Homo sapiens: one gene and its partners. The protein of the gene in region 1 purifies or fractionates together with the protein of each later gene. This does not show direct contact. Each region holds a gene or a part of one and is shown in the gene's direction. Other genes may lie near its edges.

Region 1 (7,678 bases):
ATGCTTCAGCACAAGTGTACTTCATGAATCACTATCGCTCTGTCATGCAGGAAGACATAGCTAGTGAGGAAGAAGGTGAGAACTCCCACTAATAAAATGAGTGAGAGTCTCAAAGAGGGGGAATAAGGGAGGAGACTGCCCCTCATATCCTCTTATGCCCAATTTCTGCCTCCAAAGAAAGAAGAAGTAAAAGCTAAAAGGCAGAAATGAAATCTACAGGTAGACAGCCCGGCGCCGCACCCTGGGCCTGGTAGTTAAAGACTGACCCCTGACCTAACCGGTTGTGTTACCTATAGATTCCAGACATTGTAAAAATCCCTGTCCCGTTCTGTTCCGTTCTGATTACCAGTGCATGCAGCCCCCAGTCACGTACCCCCTGCTTGCTCAATTGATCACGACCCTCTCACGCGGACCCCCTTAGAGTTGTGAGCTCTTAAAAGGGACAGGAATTGCTCACTCAGGGAGCTCGGCTCTTGAGACAGGAGTCTTGCCAATGCTCTCGGCCAAATAAACTCCTTCCTTCTTTGACTTGGTGTCTGAGAGTTTTGTCTGCATCTTGTCCTGCTACAAGCTCACGGCAACCTCTGCCTCCTGGGTTCAAGCAATTCTTCTGCCTCAGCCTCCTGAGTAGCTGGGACTATAGGCACGCACCACCACGCCCGGCTATTTTTTGTATTTTTAGTAGAGATGGAGTTTCACCCTGTTGGCCAGACTGGCCTCGAACTCCTGACCTATGATCTGCCCGCCTCGGCCTCCCAAAGTGCTGGGATTATAGGCATGAGCCACCGCACCTGGCCCATACAGCTTTTATAATATTATAGATTTTTTTCTTCCCAATGTTTTAAGAGATGGGGTCTTGGCCGGGCACAGTGGCTCACGTCTGTAATCCCAGCACTTTGGGAGACCAAGGCAGGCAGATCAACTGAGGTCAGGGGTTCGAGACCAGCTTAGCCAACATGGTGAAACCCTGTCTCTACAAAACATACAAAAAATTAGCTGGGCATGGTGGCGGGCCCCTGTAGTCCCAGCTACTCGGGAGGCTGAGGCTGGAGAATCACTTGAACCCAGGAGGTGGAGCTTGCAGTGAGCCGAGATTGCACCACTGCACTCCAGCCTGAGCAACAGAGTCAGACTCCATCCGAAAAAAAAAAACAGTTTTGAAAGTGTTGAGCACCCGATTCTATCGCTGATCGGGGCGCCACTTGTAACCTGCACGGACCTAAGGGGACTGAACAAAGGGGGCGAACTCGGGAATAAAGACAAGAGACAAAAGAGTATATTTGGAAGAGGGCGTCAGGGGGCACCTTGCCTCTAGTGGACAAGGGCCCTGAGCTTTACACAGCCCTCCGTATCTATTAGGCAAAAGAGATAGTGAGAAAAGGGGGGTGATTGTCGGGTAATTGTCAGTCGGCCTTGAACAGGCTGCATCCTTTGGACAATAGAGTATTTCTCAATAGATAACTTCAAGGAGCCCAGAGCCAGGGAGCGAGGCCCTCAGCAAACCTTTTGGTGGCAGGGCAGTGTGAGTTCACCCACATCCTGCATTCATGGTAAACAGTTTGCTGTTTGATCATAGAGCCTCCAGCGGAATGCTGAGTTGGTCACGTCCCACGGGCCTTCGGCTCCCTGCATGAAGCTATGACACAGGTGCCCTCCCTACAGTCTTTCCCAGGCCTGCTGGGTCTCAAGTAGCCATGTGGCACCCAGGGAGGCTGTCAAGGCTGTCTGAGGCCCGAAGTTACATCCTAGGTTAGAGCTCAGGACAGAAGACAGAGCTGTGAAGGCAATGCCTGGAGGATCCAACCTCTCCCAGAATAGCCAGGAGGCAAAACTGGCGAAAGGGGACCACATGGGGCTGGATTCTGCTTGGGAGCTGCTGGTCGAGGCACTGAGAACTTGTCCCCAGACCTCACCATGGCCACCTGTCCAGCCCCGATTCCAGAGGCTCAAAACCAAAAACATAAGTAACAGCAAATCAACAAGTATTAAATTATATGTAACTAACAATTTTGAAGACATTCCTATTGACATAGGATGTTGTTCTCAGTCATTCTGCAAGCCAGGGACCTCCGGCCAGCGACGCCCCGCCAGGGCCTCGCTTGACACACTACCTGCTGCAGGAGACAGCCCGTCAACTCCCCCGAGTTCCCGAATGCTTGTCCACGGCCAAGAAGAATGAGGAGGCTCTGACAATCGAAGAGTGAGCAAGGCGGGGAATTTCACTGGGTGACGGGGCAGCTTTCAGTGGAGAGGGGACATGGCGTGGTCCCCCTACATGAAGGCAGGAAAGTTCCCCATGTTATGGACTCAGAATGGGGAGGGCGTGCTGATTGGTTTGTGAGTAATGCAAAAAAGGTTAAAGCAAAGGCACCACTGAAAGGTGGGCATGACAGTGTAGAAAGCCAATTAGAAAAGGGTAGGTATATGTAAAATAGGTGAAGGGTGGGACCAATCAGAGGAAAGTGCGCCAGACAGGAAGACAGGCTCTCAATCCGGTCTGAGGATTCGACTTGCAGCTTGGCTTTCAGGCTTTAAGCTGTTTTCAGCGTCGAGGTGGAGGTTTCACTGGGGACCTGCCCCCATTTGGCTGGGCATTTGGCTGCCTGCCTCCTGTCGCTATCACTCCTTTACTAGTGAGGACTAAACTGATCTTTTTCTCTCTTGCTCAAGTTCTTATCTAAAGGGCCTGGGGAGTCTGCCCTACAAACCATAAAATGTCATCAGATAGGTTTTATTTAACCCTATATAATTGGCTTAGTTTCCAACCTGACTCTAGCATAACGTCACATGACAGATAAAGGAAATCAAAATATTTTACTCTTTTTTTTTTTTTTTTTTTGAGACGGAGTCTCACTCTGTCGCCCAGGCTGGAATGGAGTGGCGCGATCTCGGCTCACTGCAAGCTCCGCCTCTGGGTTTCACACCGTTCTCCTGCCTCAGCCTCCCGAGTAGCTGGGACTACAGGCGCCCGCCACCATGCCCGGCTAATTTGTTGTATTTTTAGTAGAGACGGGTTTCACCATGTTAGCCAGGATGGTCTCGATCTCCTGACCTCGTGATCCACCCGCCTCGGCCTCCCAAAGTGCTGAGATTACAGGCGGGAGCCACCGTGCCCGGCCTATTTTACTTTTAAATATATTTCTTGGCTATACTTTGGATGCTTTCAGGTCATAGGTGGATTCAAAGATTTTCTGATTGGCAATTGGTTGAATAAGTTAAGTGATTACCTAAGACCTGGAATCTATAGAAAGGCGTGTCTAGGTTTGAACAGTTGGCCACCCTTGTGTGGGTGGAGTATTACATAGGTGCCTAGGCAAGAGACTGAAGGCACAAACTGTTTCAGTATAATAAAGAAAATAGTTAGAATAAGAATAGTCATAATACAAATTAGATATAGAGATGACCATGAACAATTATCAATCATTATTATAAACATTATTAATCATTAGCTTTTACCATTACTCTTTGTTGCATTACTAATATAACCTAGGAATAACCGGCGGATATAGGGTCGGGTGCTGAAGGGACATGGTGAGAAGTGACCTAGAAGGCAAGAGGTGAGCCTTCTGTCACTCCCACATCAGGGCTGCTTGAGGGCTCCTTGGTCAAGCCCTAACGCCAGTGTCTGGGAAGTCACCCGTTGCTTAGTAGACTGCGAAAGGGAGTCTCCTTTCCTTGGAGGAGTCAGGGAACACTCTGCTCCACCAGCTTCTTGTGGGAGGTTGGATATTACCCAGGCCTGGCCGCAGTCATCCGGAGGCCTAAACCCCTCCCTGTGGTGCTTCAATGTTCACGCTCCTTGTCCACTTTCGTGTTCCTCCTGTACTCCTGGTTCCTCTTTGAAGTTCGTAGTCGATAGCGGTAGAAGAAATAGTGAAAGTCTTAAAGTCTTTGATTAATGCTAACTTATGCTGCCTTCTCTCTCTGCTTCCGCTACCTAAGAGGGAAGGGCCCCCTGTCCTGTAATCATGTGACTTGCTTCACCTTGTCAATCACTTAGAAGATTCACCCTCCTTACCCTGGCCCCTTGTCTTGTATGCAATAAATATCAGCGCGCCCAGCCGTTTGGGGCCACTACCGGTCTCTGCGTCTTGATGGTAGTGGTCGCCCGGGCCCAGCTGTTTTCTCTTTATCTCTTTGTCTTGTGTCTTTATTTATTACAATCTCTCATCTCCGCACACGGGGACAACACCCGCTTAGCCCCGCAGGGCTGGACCCTACACCCTTGATTGGCTGGAACTGGGTGACTGGCAGGAGAGCAAGTGACAGTCTGTTCACACCTCCAGTTAGGTTACAGTTCACTTTGTAGGATAAACCTTTAGGCCGACTTTAGGTTATGAGGGCCGGGATCGGTGGTTCACGCCTGTAACCCCAGCACTTTGGGAGGCCAAGTCAGGCGGATCACCTGAGGTCAGGAGTTCAAAACCAGCCTGACCAACATGATGAAACCCCCGTCTCTACTAAAATTACAAAAAAATCAGCCGGGCGTCGTGGCGCTTGGCTGTGACCGGGGCGGGGCCTGCCGGCTGCGGCGGAACCACAAGCGGTGCGGGGCGAGGCGGGCGGCCTGGACGGCCTGGAAGGCCAGCGCGCACCACCGAGACGTGGGCTCCTAGAGGGGCCGGAAGCTTTCGGATAACAACTTCCGCTCGGGAAGTTTGTAAAAGTCTGGGCTACCGGCGCGGCGTAGTGGATGCAGCATCCTAGTGGAGGACGCCCCTGTGGTGAGTGCGCCCGTGTCCCCCGCCGCCCCTCCGTCCCTGGGTCGTGGGCTGTCAAACCTTCTAATTCTGCGGCCGCCCCAGGGCTGTGAGACCCAGCGTCGCGGCTGCTGGGACAGACCGGGGAGGCTGCCCGTGCCCTCGGCTATTCGGGGGCTGTTCTTCAGCTTCTTCCGGCTCGGCCTCCTCTTCTCTCCTCGCTCCTTACACTTGCAGGTTTGTCAGGACCCGGTTGCGTATCCTCTTGAAGCTGGTTTCTTCCTGGCCGACCCCGTCCGCGATCGTGACCTTAGTTATCCCTCATAGACACTTTCCACACCTGTGTCTCCAGCCCTATCGCTCCGATGAGACCCGAGCGCTTAGACTTGATTCATAACACCCAAAGCTCCCCGGCCCCAGGCTGAGCTCCTGCAACCTCCACACCCCACCCTCTGGTCCTCCCAGGCATTCCACCGCGAAGGGGAGGAGGCAGAAACCCGAGATTCGCTTCTTCTCCTTTCCTGCCCACGCCCAGCCACACAGTCACTGGTGCGTTAGCTCCATAACTGAACCATTTGCCTCCTTGCCATTCCCACCCTGTAAGTCCCAATCCTGGCCGTCTTCCTCTCTCACCTGAACGCCTCCCTGTCTTCTCCCCACCCCCATCCTGTTTTGCTGCTTTCTCATTTGTTCATCACAGAGGATCTTTTATAAAATGTAGCTTAGCCAGGCAAGGTGGCTCCCGCCTGTAATCTCAGCTCTTGGGAGGCCGAGGCAGGTGGATCACTTGAGTCCAGGAGTTCTAGACCAGCTTGGTCAGCATGTTGAAACCTTGTCTCTACAAAAAATACAAAAATTAGCCGGGTGTGGTGGTGCACGCCTGTAATCCCAGTTACTCTGGGGAGGCTGAGGCAAGAGAATCGTTTGAACCCAAGAGGCAGAGGTTGCAGTGAGCAGAGATCGCGCCACTGCACTCCAGCCTGGGCGACAGAGCGAGACATCATCTTATTAAAAAAAAAAAAAAAAAAAAGGTAGCTTAGGCCGGATGCTGTGGCTGACGCCTGTAACCCCAGCACTTGGGGAGGCTGAGGCCAGAGGATCTCTTGAGGCCAGGAGTTTGAGATCAGTCTTGGCAACATAGTGAGACCCCGTTTCTGCAAAAAACTTAAAACAATTGCAGGGCATGTTGGCACATGCGCTTTTGGTCCCAGCTACTGGGGAGACTGAGGTGGGAGGATCACTTGAGCCCAGGAGGTCGAGGCTGCAGTGAGCTGTGATTGCACTACTGCATTCCAGCCTGGGTGACAGAGCAAGGACCTGCCTCAGAGAAAAAAAAATCCTGTGTTAATTTGCCTAGGGGAAAAAAAGTAGCTATGACAATATCCTTCTGTTCTCCCGTATTAAACTTTGTTGCATTACACATGAAACCACGGCTCAGGAGGCCTTGAGGAATCTGGCTTTAGCCCCTTTCCTGGCCTATCTCACGGTTCTCCCTGACTCTGCTTTCCAGGCTGGGAAGCCCAGTCCAGGTTGTGCAAACACAGCTGTTGAGCTGAGGGGAGAGGGTGTTTTTTTTTTGTTTTTGTTTTTGTTTTTTTTGAGATCGTCTCGCTCTGTCTCCCAGGCTGAAGTGCAGTGGCATAATCTCGGCTCACTGCAACCTCCGCCTCCCGGGTTCAAGCAGTTCTCCTGCTTCAGCCTCCCAAGTAGCCTGGCTAATTTTTTGCATTTGTAGTAGAGATGGGGTTTCACCATGTTGGCCAGGCTGGTCTCGAACTTCTGACCTCAGGTGATCCACCTGCCTCGGCCTCCCCAAGTGCTGGGATTACAGGCGTGAACCACCGCGAATGGCCGGGAGCTGTTATTTTTATCACTGTGGTCATTGCTACTTGCTAGAGGAACTCAGCAAGGTGTTCTAATTGGAAAACACCACCCATGACCCATGTGCTCAGTGTGCCTTTTCATGTTTTTATAGACCGTTGTATAACTTTGGTTGAAGTGTCTGTTCTAATATTTTGCCCAGTTTAAATTTTATTTCTCTTTTTTATTGATTTGTAGGAGTTACAATTCTTTATATAAGTCCTTTGTCAGATACATGTATTGGGAATATTTTCTCTTAGTCTGTGGCTTACCTTTGTGTCTCTTTTTAGAAAAAAAAATTTAAACAATAGAGACAGAGGTCTCCCTATGTTGCCCAGGCTGGTCTCAAACTCCTGGCCTCAAGCAATCCCCCTGCCTTAGCCTCCCAAAGTGCTGGGATTACAGGCGTGAGCCACTGCACCCCGTCTCCTTTTTTTTTTTTCTTAACTGCCTTGGTAAACAAAAATTTTTAATTCTGATAAATCCAATTTGTGATTTTTTTTTTTTTTTGAGACGGAGCTTTGCTTTTGTTGCCCAGGCTGGAGTGCAATGGCGCGATATCGGCTCGCCGCAACTTCTGCCTCCTGGGTTCAAGTGAATCTCCTGCCCCAGCCTCCTGAGCAGCTGGGATGACAGGCAAGTGCCACCACGCCTGGCTAATTTTGTATTTTTAGTAGAGATGGGGTTTCTCCATGTTGGCCAGGCTGGTCTCAAACTCCGTACCTCAGGTGATCCGCCCACCTCGGCCTCCCAAAGTGCTGGGATTACAGGCGTGAGCCACTGCATCCGGCCTGAATTTGTAATTTTTTAAAAGTGCTTTTAGGGATCCATGAAAGAAATGTTTGTCTACCCCAATGTTGTGAAGATGGTCTCTCTGTGTCACCCAGGCTGGAGTGCAGTGGCACAATCTTGGCTCACTACAACCTCTACCTCCAGTTTGTGTTTTTTGTTTGTTTGTTTTTGTTTTTGTTTTTAAGACGGAGTTTTGCTCTTGTTCCCCAGGCCGGACTGCAGGGGTGCGATCTTGGCTCACAGCAACTTCCACCTCCCGGGTTCAAGCGATTCTCCTGCCTCAGCTTCCCAAGTAGCTGGGATGACAGGTGCCTGCCACCATGCCT
Region 2 (7,850 bases), on another chromosome or scaffold:
TGAGCTCACTGTTCCTGCTGGCAGCTGTGTCAGCCCTGTTCATGTCCAGGCTCAGCCCTTGGGGCTGGGCCAGGGCTGCAGTGGGTTCAGTTGGGGGAATCCGAAAGAAAGGGTTTGTCCCAGGAGTCAGGAGCCCTTGGGGCTCTCTCCCGGACCTCAGCCAGGCCCGTTCCCTCCTGCACCTCAGCTTCCAGGACTGCAGTGGATGGTGGGGCACTACAGGATCTTTAAGCGCCTGCTGCCTTTCTCCTTGCAGAAGGCCCGCCGCTGAGCAACACCACGTTTCCTCATGTGCTGCCCCTCATCACCCTGCTGGAGTGTGACTCGGCCCCACCAGAGGGCCCTGAGCCCTGGGGCAGCACGGAGCACGGCGTGGAGGTGGTGCTGGCTCACCTGGAGGCCGCCCGCACAGTGGCACACCACGGAGGCCTGTACCACACCAATGCTGAAGTCAAGCTGCAGGGTGAGTGGCGGGTGGCATCTTGGGGGGCTTGCAGGCCTGGGCCTCCCTCCACCTGCCTCACTGCTTCCCTTTTCTCCAAGGCATCCATTCACATTTCTCCACTCCTCTGTCCTGCCCTGTCTCCCTGACCCCTTCCTCTCATGTCTTTTCTTTTCTTTTTTCTTTTTTTTTTGAGATGGAGTCTCACACTGTCGCCCAGGCTGGAGTGCAGTGGCACAGTCTCGGCTCACTGCAACCTCCGCCTCCCAAGTTCAAGCGATTCTCCTGCCTCAGCCTCCCGAGTAGCTGCAATTACAGGCGTGAGCCACCATACCTGGCCAATTTTTTGTATTTTTAGTAGAGGTGGGGTTCCACCATGTTGGGCCGCTGGTCTTGAACTCCTGACCTCAGGTGATCCACCCGCCTTGGCCTCCCAAAGTGCTGGGATTACAGGTGTGAGCCACCGCACCCAGCCTAAAATGTATACATCTTTCTTAGGAAATAATTTGGAACTTAACAGAAAAATACGAAAAAAGAAAAAAAATCACCAAAAATCTGCAAACATATTTAACATTAATATTTTATGGTCTAGTCATTTTTAAATTATATGCTGCAAATAACAGGACAAAGATGCTAAACTACAGGGTCGTGTTGATTCACAAACCTTGTTGGATCCCTGGCGGAGTTGAGGGGAGGTCCCTAACAGGGGGGTCCTGAAGAATGCTAGGGCTCTGGACAGGAACCCCAGCCTCTGCCCTGACCCTATGCCCCAACACTGCAGGGTTCCAGGCCCGGCCGGAGCTCCTGGAGGTGTTCAGCACGGAGTTCCAGATGCGCCTTCTCTGGGGCAGTCAGGGTGCCAGCAGCAGCCAGGCCCGGCGCTATGAGAAGTTCGACAAGGTCCTCACTGCCCTGTCCCACAAGCTGGAACCTGCTGTCCGCTCCAGCGAGCTGTGACCCCAGGGACATTTCCCCTCTGCAGCTGCGGACAGCGTCAGGGGCAGAGGGGCACACAACTTTCCCCAGAGCACCCCAAGGACACTGTGATCAACCCGAGAATGTTCTGGGTTCAACTCAAGCATCTCCCTTGCACCTCCAGGGTCCTGCGTGGACTCTGGGTTCCATCCCACCTGCTACATGCTCACCAGGTCTCCATTGAGGAAGAACAGGAACGCCGGTTCCCCCACCAGCTTTTGCTGCTCCCCTTCCTGCTGGGGTTCCCTGTTTTCGAGCCATGGGAGGCAGGCTGCTCACGCCTCCTCACTCTCTGTCTGTCCCTCACCAACACCAAGGCCTCCATCTCACTGTAAATAAGTCTCTGTTCTGTAAATAGATGTACAGAAGCCATGTTATTTCTTTCATATAATAAACTTTTATGACTCTTTATTCTGTCTCTCGGGCTCCTGGGGTAGAAGGAAGCACCTTTTCTCAGGCGAAAGGTAGAAAACTTCATTCAACAAATGTTGTGAGTGAGTGCCGAGTATCTGGGGCCAGTGGCATGGGAGTAAGAAGAATTTACCAAGACAGTTGTAGGTAAAGAAAGGCAGATTTATTTCAGGAAGCATGAAAATGCATTGCAAGGTAGCAACGGGCAGATCAGCAGAAGAGGAGCTGACTGCAAAGAGACAAAGCCTTGCTGTGAGTTTTTATGGGATGGCATTTCTGCTGTGTGCTGAACAGGGCTTTCTGCAGTACTGATAATGCCAAGGTTGCAGTGGGCTAACCTACATGTGTCCGGTGAGAAGTTGGGCACAGGAGGGCTGTGTGTCCTGAACCATCAAGAAGGCAGACTTCTGGCCAGGCATGGTGGCTCATGCCTGTAATCCCAGCACTTTGGGAGGCTGAGGCAGGCGGATCACCAGGTCAGGAGATCAAGACCATCCTGGCTAACATGGTGAAACCCTGTCTCTACTAAAAATACAAAAAATTAGCCGGGCGTGGTGGTGGACGCCTGTAGTCCCAGCTGCTTGGGAGGCTGAGGCAGGAGAATGGCGTGAACCTGGGAGGTGGAGCTTGCAGTGAGCCAAGATCGCGCCACTGCACTCCAACCTGGGCAACAGAGCGAGACTCCGTCTCAAAAAAAAAAAAAAAAAAAAAAAGGCAGACTTTGAGCTTATCTGCTTTCTCTTTTTGCTTTCCCCTGGTCCCATCAGCATGACTCATTTTCCCTAATTAGGACTCAACAACAAATACTTCTTTAGCACCTGGGACAGTCCAGATTGTGCCAGGAGCCAGGGTTACAGCAAATATGAAAACCCAATCCTTGCTTTCTGGGAGCTCACAGACCAGCGGGAGAGATAAATAGCTAATTCCAACCCAGTGCTCCTATCCCCTGCCCTGCCCTGGGATGGATGCCATGGCAACAGTTCCCACAAATGCACAACCAAAAATCCGAGGATTTGGGGTGGAAGGGCTTTTTGAAATCTATGATCCCAACTCCCCTCTTGAAGACTGGTACCTGAAAGGAGAAGGGACTTTTCCCGGGTCACAGCAGCAGCAGAGTGGGAAAGGCTCCACCTGGCTTCCTGGACCCAGACTTCTCTCCTTTTTTCTCCTTGATAGTGGGAACTACTCATTTTCTTCTTTTCTTTCTTTCTTTCCTTTTCTTTCTCTCTCTCTCTCTTTCTTTCTTGTTTTTTTTTTTTTTTTTTTTTTTTTTTTTGAGATGGAGTCTTGCTCTGTCACCAGGCTGGAGTGCAGTGGCACAATCCCAGCTCACTGCAACCTCTGCCTCCCGGGTTCAAGCGATTCTCCTGCCTCAGCCTCCCCAGTAGCTGGGATTACAGGCATGCGCCACTACGCCCAGCTAATTTTTGTGCTTTTAATAGAGACGGGGTTTCACCATGTTGGCCAGGATGGTCTTGATCTCTTGACCTTGTGATCCGCCCGCCTCGGCCTCCCAAAGTGCTGGGATTACAGGCGTGAGCCATCGTGCCCGGCCTCCTTCCTTCCTTCCTTCCTCTCTTTCTTTTTCTTTCTTTCTTCTCTTTCTTTCTTCTTTCTCCTTCCTTCCTTCCTTCCCTCCTTCCTTTCTTTTCTCTTTCTTTTTCTTTCTCTTTCTTTCTTTCCTTTCTTTCTTCCTTCCTTCCTTTCTTTCTCTCTCTTTTCATCCTTTCTGTTTCTCCTTTCCTTTCCTTTCTTTTTCTTTTTGAGATGGAGTTTCACTCTTCTCACTGCAACCTCCGCCTCCCGGGTTTAAGCGATTCTCCTGCCTTAGCCTCCAGAGTAGCCAGGATTACGGGAGCCTGCCACCACGCCCGGCTAATTTTCGTATTTGTAGTAGAGACGGGGTTTCGCCATGTTGATTCACGCGCCTCGGCCTCCCAAAGTGCTGGGATTACAGGCATGAGCCACCGCACCTGGCCGGAAATACTTATTTCTTTTTCAGGCTCTGATATTTGGCCCCAGAAGTCGTGTGTGTGTGTGTGTGTGTGTGTGTGTGTGACTATGTGTTGAGGTTGGTAGGGACAGGGTCTTTGAGGTGGGCCATGAAGGCTGTTGTCTTGGTTCCCTTACTCCAGTGGGTGGGGGAGGTGGGCAACGTGGATCAAAACGAATCCAGGCCAAGCTGGAGGCCTAGGGAGCCTGCGCGCTGAACCTCAAACGTCTGGAGTCCTTTGCCTTCTGAATCCTTTGACCAAGAGAGGCTGATAACATGCAACCACGCACTACGGCTCTGGTTGCAGCCAGACTTGGGTTTAGTTCTATTGTTTACCAGCTGCGTGACATTGGGTAAGAGGCTTAACCTCTTCGGTCCCAAATTCCTCCTTATTAAGATGGGGACAACAACAGAACCCATCTCCCAGGACTGATACCAAGCATTTGGCCACAGTTGCTGCTAGGTGAGGGACAGTCCTGTTTAATACACAACGGAATGTTGATGATCATGTATTGACCACTTTCTGAGCCAGACAATTTGTGTGCCTTTATCTCATTGGAACACCACCATTTCTCTGGATAGCAGATACTATTACCATATTATAAGGTATATAGGCACTTAGCACTAATGGCACAGAGTAAGTGCTCACCAAAAGCTGTTAGTGAGGGCACTTTTGTCATATAGAAGAAAAAAGGAGCATGGAAAAGGCGCTTTGCAAGGTGTAAGGTTCCGCACAAGTTTTTGCTGTAATTGTTACGTCGCCCTTTGTGGTCGTGATCCTTTATTTATTCTTTCTGAGCCACTACGATGGTCCCCTAGTTACCGTGGCCATGGAAACGCGGCCCGCCGTCCCGGATTGGACGGTTCGCGGGTTCCCCCTGGAGGCCACCTTCTGGTCCTGCTGCGGAACGACGGGCGGGCCTTGGAGGCGGGGAGAGGAGCGTCGGGAGTTGTAGGCGATGGGCGTGGCTGCTGCGGAGCGGTGCACGCCGGGAGTTGCAGTTCCCGGGCGAGGCAGTTGACTGCCCCACAACGAGCTCGGGCCTCACCCGGATGGCGGCTGCGACGCGCGGCTGCCGGCCCTGGGGCTCGCTCCTCGGGCTGCTCGGGCTGGTCTCGGCCGCGGCCGCCGCCTGGGACCTGGCTTCCCTGCGCTGCACCTTGGGCGCCTTTTGCGAATGCGACTTCCGGCCCGACTTGCCGGGTGAGGCGCCAGGGAGCCCGGAGCGAGGGGCGGGCGGACGCGGGCAGACGCGGGAGCGCTGGGAGCCCTGGGAGCCCGGCTGGCGCCGGCCAGAGAAGCTGAGGACCCAGAGGGTGGGACCGAGGGGCGGGGCCCGCAGACTTGGGAGGGTGGAGGGTACCCGTTGAGGTCCAGGAGGCCCTGCCAACCTGGAGAGAGGCCTCAGCCAGCAGAACCCTTGGTGGAAGTTCTTGGGCCTCCCCGGAATGGCCTGGCCGTCAAAGGAGAAGTGCAGTGCGCCTTGGGGATGGGCGGGGTCTGCGGCTGACCCCGTTGACAGCTCGCATTTAGAGCTGAGTGCAATCTAGAGGACCGCCTGGTGGGGGCGCTGCCGAGCTGAATCAGGCCCGAAGGTGGCTCTTTTCCGCCACAGACCCCAAGGTTTGCGTGCCATGTGCATAGGCAGCTTGGACAAACGTAAGGACACAGGAGTCCCAGACCAGGTTCCAGACATGATGTTCTCCTTGAACCTCTGCCTCGGTGGGATGTGTCCTCACCATCCTCCTGTGGCCCTAGGTCTGGAGTGTGACCTGGCTCAGCACCTGGCCGGCCAGCATCTGGCCAAGGCGCTGGTGGTGAAGGCGCTGAAGGCCTTTGTGCGGGACCCAGCCCCCACCAAGCCGCTGGTCCTCTCCCTGCACGGCTGGACCGGCACCGGCAAATCCTATGTCAGCTCCCTGCTGGCGCACTACCTCTTCCAGGGCGGCCTCCGCAGCCCCCGCGTGCACCACTTTTCTCCCGTCCTCCACTTCCCCCACCCCAGCCACATCGAGCGCTACAAGGTAGGCTGGATGCGTCCTTGACCACTGTTCTCACCATGGGGTGCCACCCTAGGGAGTAAGTCCTGAGCCCAGACAGGGGAGTCACCTGCTCCAGGCCACACACGGCTGCAGCCCCAGCCCTCAGGACCCATCCTGCACAGAACTTGGGAAGGTGTCATTCTACCTGGCAGGGAGTACTTTGATTCCTTGGGGCAGTAAGGAACCCTGGCAGTACCTACATGCCAGGGTTGTTGTGAGGGACATGAGATTATACCATTGCAGATATCATTTATGGAGCACCTATGTTTGTCAGATAATCTGCACTGTTGTCTTGCTGGAAATCAGCCCCAATTTGTGGCTCAGAGGAAGCATCAGGAAATATTGGCTCTTACTACTACTGTTGTTGATTGCAGGGTACCCACCAGGCTGATCAGTTTCAGCCGTCAACACTGCTGTGTAGTTTCAGGGAGCAGGAAGGAGCCTTCCCCTTTTATAGAAAGCAGCAAGTGTCGTGGAAGGAGCTCTGAACAGGGAAGTGGGAGGCTTGGGTTTGAGTCCCTGTTCTGACTGGCTGTGTGACTTTGGGCAAGTCTCTGCCCCAATCTGGGATACAGTTTCACCATCAGTCTCACTAAGAGGTTGGTGCTCTCTGGAAGACCACATCCTTCCCTAGAAAGGAGATTAGTTTTGGTTTGGGAAGAGGTCTGGTGTTGGGGGAGTTTCTCCAGCTCCCCTGGAACTCCTGTCTCTCCCCTACAGAAGGATCTGAAGAGCTGGGTCCAAGGGAACCTCACTGCCTGTGGCCGCTCCCTCTTCCTCTTCGATGAGATGGACAAGATGCCCCCAGGCCTGATGGAAGTCCTGCGGCCTTTCCTGGGCTCCTCCTGGGTGGTATACGGGACCAATTACCGCAAAGCCATCTTCATCTTCATCAGGTGGGGCCCGGCTTTGCAGTGGGCACAGTGGGGGGGCCACTTCTCAGAGGTTCAGCTCTACAGCCTTAGCCTGTGCTCCCAGCAGAATCCAGTTCCCCATGGGCTTAGCTGGGCTTTCCCAGTGCCCTCCGCCACTCTCAGAGATGACATTGTCATTCCGCCTGGTTGATTTCCCTTTGGACATTCTCAGCAAATTCTGGGCTCAGTCTTTTTGATCGCCACTTCTTTGTGGAAGCCCTGCCAGGTCAAGAAGTTTTCCCTCTTTTGTGGTGAGGAGGACACAGGCCTGGGAAAAATAGGAACAGAGTTCTTGTCCTTTAGTCCCAGCTCTCAGAATCCTCGCTGTGTTTCCTCAGGCAGCATGGCTCCGCCTCTCTGAGCCTCTGTCTCTGCTTCTGAACAGCGGGGCCAATAATGATGCCCCGATGCCTTCCTGGAAGTTCAGTGAGGGAAAGTCAGTTGAGGGACACAAAAGTGTTTTGTAAACTATAAAGTACGTGGCATGTGTAGGTGAATTACAGGGGCCATGGATGTGGACACCATGGAGGGGGAAGTGGAGCGTTTTCAGTGGAGTTGGCTCCTCCCCGCACTGAGCCATGTTCCTATGTCAGGTGGCAGCGGGGAAGCGAGGGTCCAATCCTGCCCTGCGCTAGTCCTCATCTGAGTCTCAGCCTGGGTCCCCCATGGTTTTAGCAACACGGGTGGCAAGCAGATCAACCAGGTGGCATTGGAGGCGTGGCGCAGCCGGCGGGACCGCGAGGAGATCCTCCTGCAGGAGCTGGAGCCGGTCATCTCCCGCGCGGTGCTGGACAACCCGCACCGTGAGTCTGGCTCAGCAGCCCCCTCCCGGGCAGCTTCACCCCACACCCAGGGGCCAGGCTCTCCCGGGGTCTCATGCTTTGCCCACTGACCCGGCAGTTCTGAGCCTGGCTTTGGCACTCCCAGCTTTGTGACTTTGGGTGAGCCTTACAGCCCCTGAGTCCTACACCCAGAAGGCGGCTGAGGGAACTGAGGCCAGCATTTTTCCTCCTGCCCCTGGGGGTTTGGGGCCGGCTTCTCCCCTCTTGTGAAGCACAAAGTCCCCTCCCCA
Region 3 (7,980 bases), on another chromosome or scaffold:
CCCAATTTAAAACAGGAATTGTTTAGGTGCCAATTTAAAACTTAGGAATTATTTCTGATATTTTCCACTTAAAATATTCAGACTGTGGTTGCCAAGAGTAATGAAACCTTGAGAAATGAAACCGAGGATAAGGGGAGGACTACTGTATTTCATGATATGCTGGTGTGGATAAAAATAGGTGCAACCTTACTGAAGTTGACCATGAGGTTGATCACCTGTTGACCACTGAATAGGCCCCACAGACAAAAGCTCCTGATCTGAGGAATTTCGAAGGGAACAAAGACCACCTGGTGACCACCAAACGGGCCAGACAGAGGCGAAACTCCTTTTCTGGGAATTCAGAAGTAATTAAACTTTCCTAGTATCTAAAGTCTGGTTCCAGGCCTCTTTCAACTTTTACAAGTAACTAAAATTTATATACATCTCTGAAATGCCATGCCGAAACTCTTTTTACTATCCTAAGCTCCTGCCTTAAGGTCCATAAATACCTCTAAAGAAAAATCCATGGCAGCACACTTAGTCCTCTTGCTGAGGCGCCCCACTGCACTCTTCTGCAGTGTTCTGTTACCGCCTAAGGGGTTCACCTTGCCCATGCCTAGACAGAGTCAATTCATCGAGACAGGGGAATTGTGATAGAGAAAGAGTACTTCACGCAGAACCAGCTGTGTGGGAGATCAGTCTCCCCGAGCACGGGGGAGCAGAGTTTTAAAAGATAACTTCGTGGGTGGGGGGAAGCCAGTGAGCCAGAAGTGCTGATTGGTCAGGGATGAAACTGTAGGGAATCAAAACCGTCTTCCTGCACTGAGTCAGTTCCTGGGTGGGGGCCACATAATCAGATGAGCCACTTTGGGCAGCCAAAGTGAGTGGATCACCGGAGGTCGGGAATTGGAAACCAGCCTGGCCAACATTGTGAAACCCTGTCTCTACTAAAAAACAAAAAAAAAAAAACAAACAGAAAAAGCCAGGCGTGATGGCAGGTGCCTGTAATCCCAGCTACTCGAGAGGCTGAGACAGGAGAATCACTTGAATCCGGGAGGCGGAGGTTGCAGTGAGCCGAGATCGTGCCATTTGCACTCCAGCCTGGGCGACAAGAGCAAGACTCCGTCTCCAAAAAAAAAAAAAAAAAAAAAAAGAGCCAGTTTATTGATGTGGGTAGTGCCAGCTGACCCATCAAGTACGGGGTCTGCAAAATACCTCAAGCACTGATCACAGGAGCAGTTTAGGGAGGGTCAGAATCTTGCAGCCTCCAGCTGCATGACTACTAAACCAAAAATTCTAATCCTGTGGCTAATGTTAGTCTAGTCCTCAGACAAGAAGGAAGTCTGCTTTGGGAAAGGGCTGTTACCCTCTTTGTTTATAAACTAAGTTTCTCCCAAAGTTAGTTCAGCCTACGCCCAGGAATGAACAAGAACAGCTTGGAGCTTAGAAGCAAGATGGAGTCGGTTACGTTAGATTTCTTTCACTGTCTCAGTCATCATTTTGCAAAGGCTGTTTCAGTTCTTCCTTTCTAATAAACTTTCCTTTTTTCAAACCTATACTGTTTGTAGGTATGGTAAATTCATTTTACCAACCTGCGAGTTGACCACTTCCCGGTGCCAGGGCTCTGACACCTTGCCAGGCACTTACGGAAAGATAATTGTAAAAATCTAATAGAATTTTAAATTTCCATGCCTTCGAACCCAGCAGCCAAACTTCCAGAAATTTATCCTACTAATATAATGGCACGACGATCTAAAGAGATATGTACAAGGATGTTCTCGACAGCCTTTATTTAATAAGATGTGGAAAGAACCTTAAATGTCTACTCAAAATTGTTGAATAAATCACATGTCTACAAAATGAATAATGCAGACTTTAAAAAGAGTGAGGTAGCTCTATGTCACCAAACTGGAACAATAAAAGCCACTATAAAGTATAAAAAGCAAGCTGAAGACTGTCTCTATGTTTGAAATTTTTCATAATAAAAAATGAAAAAAATGGAGGGGGATTAGATATATTGCCTTTTCATGAGTAAGAATCTCACAAGTCTTGGACAATTAAACCCCGCCTTCATCCCTCCCATCTCATCATATCTGACCTCAACCAGTTTCCTACCTACACTGCTTATATGCCCATTTGCTCTATATGACTCAGTCATTTCAAGATTGCTTCTGTTTTCCCTTATTGATATAAAAATATTAAAAATGTATATTTAAAATTTGTTTAATTACATCCCATTATTACAGTTCATTTTTGCATATTCCTGTGTTGAAAATCCTTTGGTATAAATCAACATCAAAACTCGGTGTTATTCCACTTTTCTTGAACTGTAATCCTTTTTAAACAAGGAATATACCTTTTCTTGTTTAGAGAATATACGTACATTCATAAATCTTGGCAACTTTCAAAGGCCATAACAAATTTGTGTTAAGAATTCAGATCCCCTTTATTATTGTGGTAAACAGACAGATGAAATTAAGAGATTATAGCTTGTTTTCACTCTCTCCCAATTACTATCGCTTGAAAAATACCGGATATTTCATTATTATCCTGTCCGGAGTCGGCAAACTACGGTCTACTATCTGTCTTCGTATACGTCAAAAGCTAAGAATGGTTTTTACATTTTTAAATGACTGGGGAGGGAGGGCCAGAATCCAAGGGGAGTATTTAATGACACTTGAAAATGTTATTAAATTCAAATTTTAGCATCCATAATAAAGTTTCATTGACACACAGCCATGCTCATTTAGCTTTTGTTTGTTTTTGGAGACAGAGTCTCGCTCTGTCGCCCAGGCTGGAGTGCAGTGGCGAGATCTCGGCTCACTGCAACCTCTGCCTCCTGCTTTCAAGCCATTCTCCTGCCTCCGCCTTCCAGGTAGCTGGGATTACAGGTGCGCGCCACACGCGCCACACGCCCGGCTAATTTTTGTCTCTACTAAAAAGTAGAGACAGGGTTTCGCTATGTTGGCCAGGCTGGTCTCAAACTCCTGACCTCAGGTGATCCACCCGCCTCGGCCTCCCAAAGTGATAGGATTACAGGCGTGAGCCACCGCGCCCAGCCTTCATTTAGTACTGTCTAATGATGTTTTCATACTGCAAGGAGAAAGCTGAGTATGGACCACAAGGCCAAAAAGATGTCCTCTCTGGCTCTCTACAGCAAAGATTTGCCAAGCCCTGTTATATGTCATACTACTTGCGCTTCATAATTTTATAGTTTTACCTAGACAGTCTCCCTTTTTTCCTTCCATATTCAGCATAAAATCCCCTTAATATCAGTCTCTAGGCAAGCACATTCTTCACAGTCCTTAGAACTGGACCTCCTCTTGTTAATTTCCTTAGTCTAATCACATTCCTCCTGGTTATCTACAAACAGAAAGCCAGAAAGGAGGGCTATCAACATCTTAAGCGCCACAAATTAACAAATCAAAACCAAATCTCTCTCTCCCTCCGAAGCCACGGCTAAGGAGGCTCACTGCCCAGTTAGTGGCTTTCAAACTACCCTTACAAGTGAGACATCTTGTGAATTAGAACAAGTGCTGCTGCTAAAATCCCTAACGGCTACATAGCAATGTGAAAAAAGGTATCAAATGTAATTTTCTCAAATTTAATCTTCTTCAATTCTTGGCACAAAAAAAGGAACAGTAAAGGTAGACAACTGTAATTAGCATGTGTGATCCCAAATCTTTATACCTTAGATACTGGATTATATTTTCAGCAAGTAAATAGTTTCTGGCTCCCAAGATGAGAGGTTAAATAATGCAGGGTGTTTGTAAACAGCAGCACAATTTACACCGGAAATTAGGGCCCTTTCTCACCGAGGAGAGTACAGCAAAATCTGCTCATCTCTTTCAATGAATATTCTCCATGACTAGTGCTGGCGGCGGGGAGGCGGAGCAAGCTATCTTTTCTACCAGCCGTGTCACACCCCTCCTAGCACTAACCCCTCCTCCTCAGCCTTTTCACACCTCTACCCACTACTAGCCCCTCCCCAGCCCCATCACCTCTTCCCGGGCCCCTCACACCTCTCCCAGCATACTCTTCCCCAGCCTCATCACCTCACCCACTTCCTCCAAAATCACTGACCTGCTAAGCTTCCAGCAGCAGGCGGGCAAAGCAGGGAGGCTGTAATGCAAAAGTCCGCAGTCCCTACACAAACACTATCTGCTCCTGCGGAGAAACTCAAGTCACAGCCCCAGAAGTGGAAAGAACAGGCCTTGGCTCTCACCCAGTTAACAAGCGTTTATCCAGCGCACGTGTTGCGGTCGGACCCCATGCGAAGGAGCTAAGGACACAAAGGTGAGCAGCAGAGACGCGGTTCCAGCTCTCCCCCGGCTCCCACTCCAGCGGGATAGGTAGATAATTTCGGTAAATTTCGCCAAGCAGGGGCAGGACAAAGAGTATTTGAAGTCTACCGCGGGGAGAACTTACCTAATCCTTGAATGTTAAAAGGCTAAAAACTCCACTAGTCGGAAGTGACGTGCCAGCTTAGCCCCGCAGGTCCGCCACGTAATTGGCCGCCGCCACAGCTAGCCACCCTCTCCCCAGACTGGCCCGAAGAGAGGAAAAGTGTGGAAGTCCACAAGCCGCCCCCGCCCCGCCCTCTTCGTCGACTTTCAGCTGCACCGGGAGGCGGCGGCGCCTGGCCAGAGCCGGGGCCTGGAGCCTGGACTAGACAGCCTCGCCGGCCGGGGCGCCAGTCCAGCGCCCTGCGGGCAATGGGCTTCAGCGCTCGAGCACGCGCATGCGCGGGCCTGTATCTCCAGAGGATTCCTCGGGTCACCTGGACGCCAGCATCTCAGCCACCTGCCCCTCTGGGTCCCTTCTTGCCCTTGATTCCCCCTGCTGCTTCTCATCGCCAGCCCTCCTCCTCCTTCTTCCGCAGGCACCGCTAGACCCGGCCGCGGCCGCCCGCCGACACCCCAGCTTCCACTGACACGAGCCTCGGCGCGGCTTCCGCTTCCGGCGAGTATTGTGTGTCGCGCCGCGGGGCGGGGGCGAGGGGAGGAGGAAGGAGGGAGGCAGCGCTCCGGCGGCTCCGCGCCCCGCACTCCCGGACCCGAAGCCGGGAAGGTAGGTGCTGTCCCGCCGCCGCGCCCGAGCCTGGGGCCTGCGCTCGCCGGCCGGCTCCGCAAGCCGCGTCCCAGCGCCCCGCGACTGCGTCACCGGCCCCCCGCACGTAACCACAGCTGCCTCCGCCCGCCTCGGGCCCGGGCGGACGTTTTGCCGCCCCGGCGACGTCAGCGCGTCCGGCGTTGCTTGGCTACCCCGCCGTTCCCCCGTCCCGCTGCTGCTCACCTCCCCGGGTGAAACTCTGACGCAGTCACCGCGGGTCTCGGCAGCGTCATAGCGGCGGGCATCCCATCTGCACGTCACACCTCTTTCTCACCTGGACACGCATCCCTTCCTACCCTGCCAGCCACGACGTTTCCTCTTTCCCCTCTCCAATGCCCCAGCCCCAGATCTGGCGGAAGAAGATGGAGAACGGGGGTGGGACAGAGTTGTGGACAACCTCTCAGGAGAGGGTCGCAAGGTGGGACCCTGAACAGTGGTAGAAACAAAATGAGATTGTCCCTGAAGTTTGCCCTTCAGCTGAGACACAAGGAGTAGAGGAAGAGGAAGGACTAACGCAGAGGCACTCAAGGTCTCACTATGACTGTAGTTGAGAGTCCTCTCCCTTCTTCCCTAACCCTTTCCCCATTTCTCTCACCACTTCTTTGCCAGTCTAGATCCGTCCTGGTGCCTTACTGTGCATACAGTTCTACTCGTCTCAGGTGAGGAGGCCACTTAATTTGTAAAAGACTGAGGAAGGGGTAGGATCACCACAAGTCAAAGTTGGATTCCCACAGATAGAAATCATCTGACTGAACTTCTCTCCTATTGCTGACAGAAGAAATTCAAATCCAAAGAAGTTATCAGTTCCTACTCCAAATCAAACACATTTGTGTGTGCCAACAATATATACAGGAACAATTGTTGTTAACCTACCTCATTACATGGCCACTTATCTCTCAGCACATAGATCTACCAAATTTCCTTCCTTCCAGTAGGTCCCTGGAGAAGGATGGGGGTCGGGAGGAGAAAAGGTTATGGGGATAGTTAAATCAACTTACCCATGGCTAAAAGTATGGATGTTTTAAGGATGGAGTAGGGGGCCAGCCTTGTGTTTTATAAATCTCTCCTATGCATTTCCAATTCTTCTGAGGCTGCGCTTGAGGGAGATCTCATTGCCTCTTTTGTGTCTCTTAATTCGCAACCACTCCAGGACCTATAAGTTGGAGACACACTATGCCCAGGGTGTTAGTTATCAATAGCTATATTGAAAGATTCCAGTCACTACAAATAGACTCGTTGCTCTCTTTTCAAGAAGTCGTTGGCCTGAGCTCAGCAATATTTAATATGGTTGCCATAATTTATCAGTTTTCAGCAGTTCTGAGTGTCCAGATGAACACAAGAGAAATGGAATGTTGCGTGAAATGTCATTCCAAGAAGAGAGCAGATTTCCTTTAGGCTAGTCTGATGGATAAAAGGAAGAATAATTTCAGATTTTCCTGAAAAGAGGAGGTTGCCTTTGCCTCATTCATTCCATTTGTTAGCCTTTAGAGCAGTGGTATCTAACCCTTTCAATATGAGGACTCTCTTTGCTTATCTGTGGTGGCTGATAAAAATTATGCATGGACCTTCTGTGGTGGTGATAGAACAAAAGTTATGCATGGACTTTTTTTTTTTTAAGCTTATCAGCTGTCATTAGTGTCAATGTATTTTATGTCTGGCCCAAGACACTTCTTCCAGTGGGCCCAGGGAAGCCAAAAGGTTGGATATTGTGATTTAGAAGAATGAGAGAACAGTGTCAGAGAATCAAGCTTAGACTCCAGTGGATTAATCATAAAGCTCTTATAACATTAAACTTTAAAATATGGTTAATTTAAGAAATGTTAATATTTTTATGACTTTTTTACTTCTCAGATTCCTTTCTTGTCTGTTAGAAACGTATGTCAAACGAGGATACAGTGTCTGGAACTATTGGTTCTAAGATATAAGTGGAATGAGCCTGGATCAGGAGAAGTATGCTGAGCTAGAGTTGAAGGAAGCTTCTCTTTCTAACAAGAGAAAGCAGAGGTAAGAGACAAGATAGATCAATTGGGGGTTGTGTGTCAGTTTACTAACAAGAAAAAAAAGGTTGATGGCTGGGAGTCACAAGTTTTGAAAATGGAGAAACAAAGAGGTTGAATTGATTGGAAGAGAAGATGGAGAATAACAAGAAGGGGCAAATCTGGAGTTAGGACTTAACATAGGGATAAATGTCGGGTCAGGGATGCAAAAAAAAAAAAAAGAAAAAACCTCCAATTAATATTTTTATTTTCTCTGTCCTCTTCCCCACTCCCAAGTTAAATTATGGCAGAGACAAGTCTGTTAGAGGCTGGGGCCTCTGCAGCCTCTACAGCTGCGGCTTTGGAGAACTTACAGGTGGAGGCGAGCTGCTCTGTGTGCCTGGAGTATCTGAAGGAACCTGTCATCATTGAGTGTGGGCACAACTTCTGCAAAGCTTGCATCACCCGCTGGTGGGAGGACCTAGAGAGGGACTTCCCTTGTCCTGTCTGTCGAAAGACATCCCGCTACCGCAGTCTCCGACCTAATCGGCAACTAGGCAGTATGGTGGAAATTGCCAAGCAGCTCCAGGCCGTCAAGCGGAAGATCCGGGATGAGAGCCTCTGCCCCCAACACCATGAGGCCCTCAGCCTTTTCTGTTATGAGGACCAGGAGGCTGTATGCTTGATATGTGCAATTTCCCACACCCACCGGGCCCACACCGTTGTGCCACTGGACGATGCTACACAGGAGTACAAGGTGGGGAAGCAGACACACGATGTCAGTGTGGGTAAAAAGGGAGAAGCGGCAGAGGATGAGATACTCCCTAGGTAGAGATCGTAAGCTCCTACTACTCACTTTGTATTCTCAGAGCTGCATATGCAGGGGCACACAGTATGTGTGATCAGTTGTCCT

What was found.
Region 2: the proteins of ZNF707 (region 1) and TOR2A purify together in Homo sapiens (affinity purification with mass spectrometry, with the first as the bait; 3 studies listed by BioGRID). This does not show direct contact.
Region 3: the proteins of ZNF707 (region 1) and TRIM39 purify together in Homo sapiens (affinity purification with mass spectrometry; 3 studies listed by BioGRID and IntAct, with this or other methods). This does not show direct contact.

Annotation. Positions count from the first base shown.
Region 1 is NC_000008.11:143,679,819-143,687,496, forward strand, and holds the start of ZNF707 (zinc finger protein 707), read left to right. Parts: upstream 1-4,660; 5' UTR 4,661-4,724; intron 4,725-7,098; exon of another isoform or gene 7,099-7,196; intron 7,197-7,562; exon of another isoform or gene 7,563-7,660; intron 7,661-7,678. UniProt on the Homo sapiens protein: May be involved in transcriptional regulation.
Region 2 is NC_000009.12:127,732,295-127,740,144, reverse strand, and holds the start of TOR2A (prosalusin isoform a precursor), read left to right. Parts: upstream 1-4,850; 5' UTR 4,851-4,874; coding exon 4,875-5,025; intron 5,026-5,580; coding exon 5,581-5,846; intron 5,847-6,584; coding exon 6,585-6,760; coding exon of another isoform or gene 6,761-6,929; exon of another isoform or gene 6,930-7,371; coding exon of another isoform or gene 7,372-7,453; coding exon 7,454-7,581; exon of another isoform or gene 7,582-7,850. Other genes in the region: SH2D3C (SH2 domain-containing protein 3C), read left to right, coding at 257-463, 1,224-1,399. UniProt on the Homo sapiens protein: Salusins -alpha and -beta may be endocrine and/or paracrine factors able to increase intracellular calcium concentrations and induce cell mitogenesis. Salusins may also be potent hypotensive peptides.
Region 3 is NC_000006.12:30,321,947-30,329,926, forward strand, and holds the start of TRIM39 (E3 ubiquitin-protein ligase TRIM39), read left to right. Parts: upstream 1-4,980; 5' UTR 4,981-5,049; exon of another isoform or gene 5,050-5,210; intron 5,211-5,284; exon of another isoform or gene 5,285-5,750; intron 5,751-6,942; 5' UTR 6,943-7,095; intron 7,096-7,364; 5' UTR 7,365-7,371; coding exon 7,372-7,824; intron 7,825-7,980. Other genes in the region: TRIM39-RPP21 protein, read left to right, coding at 7,372-7,824.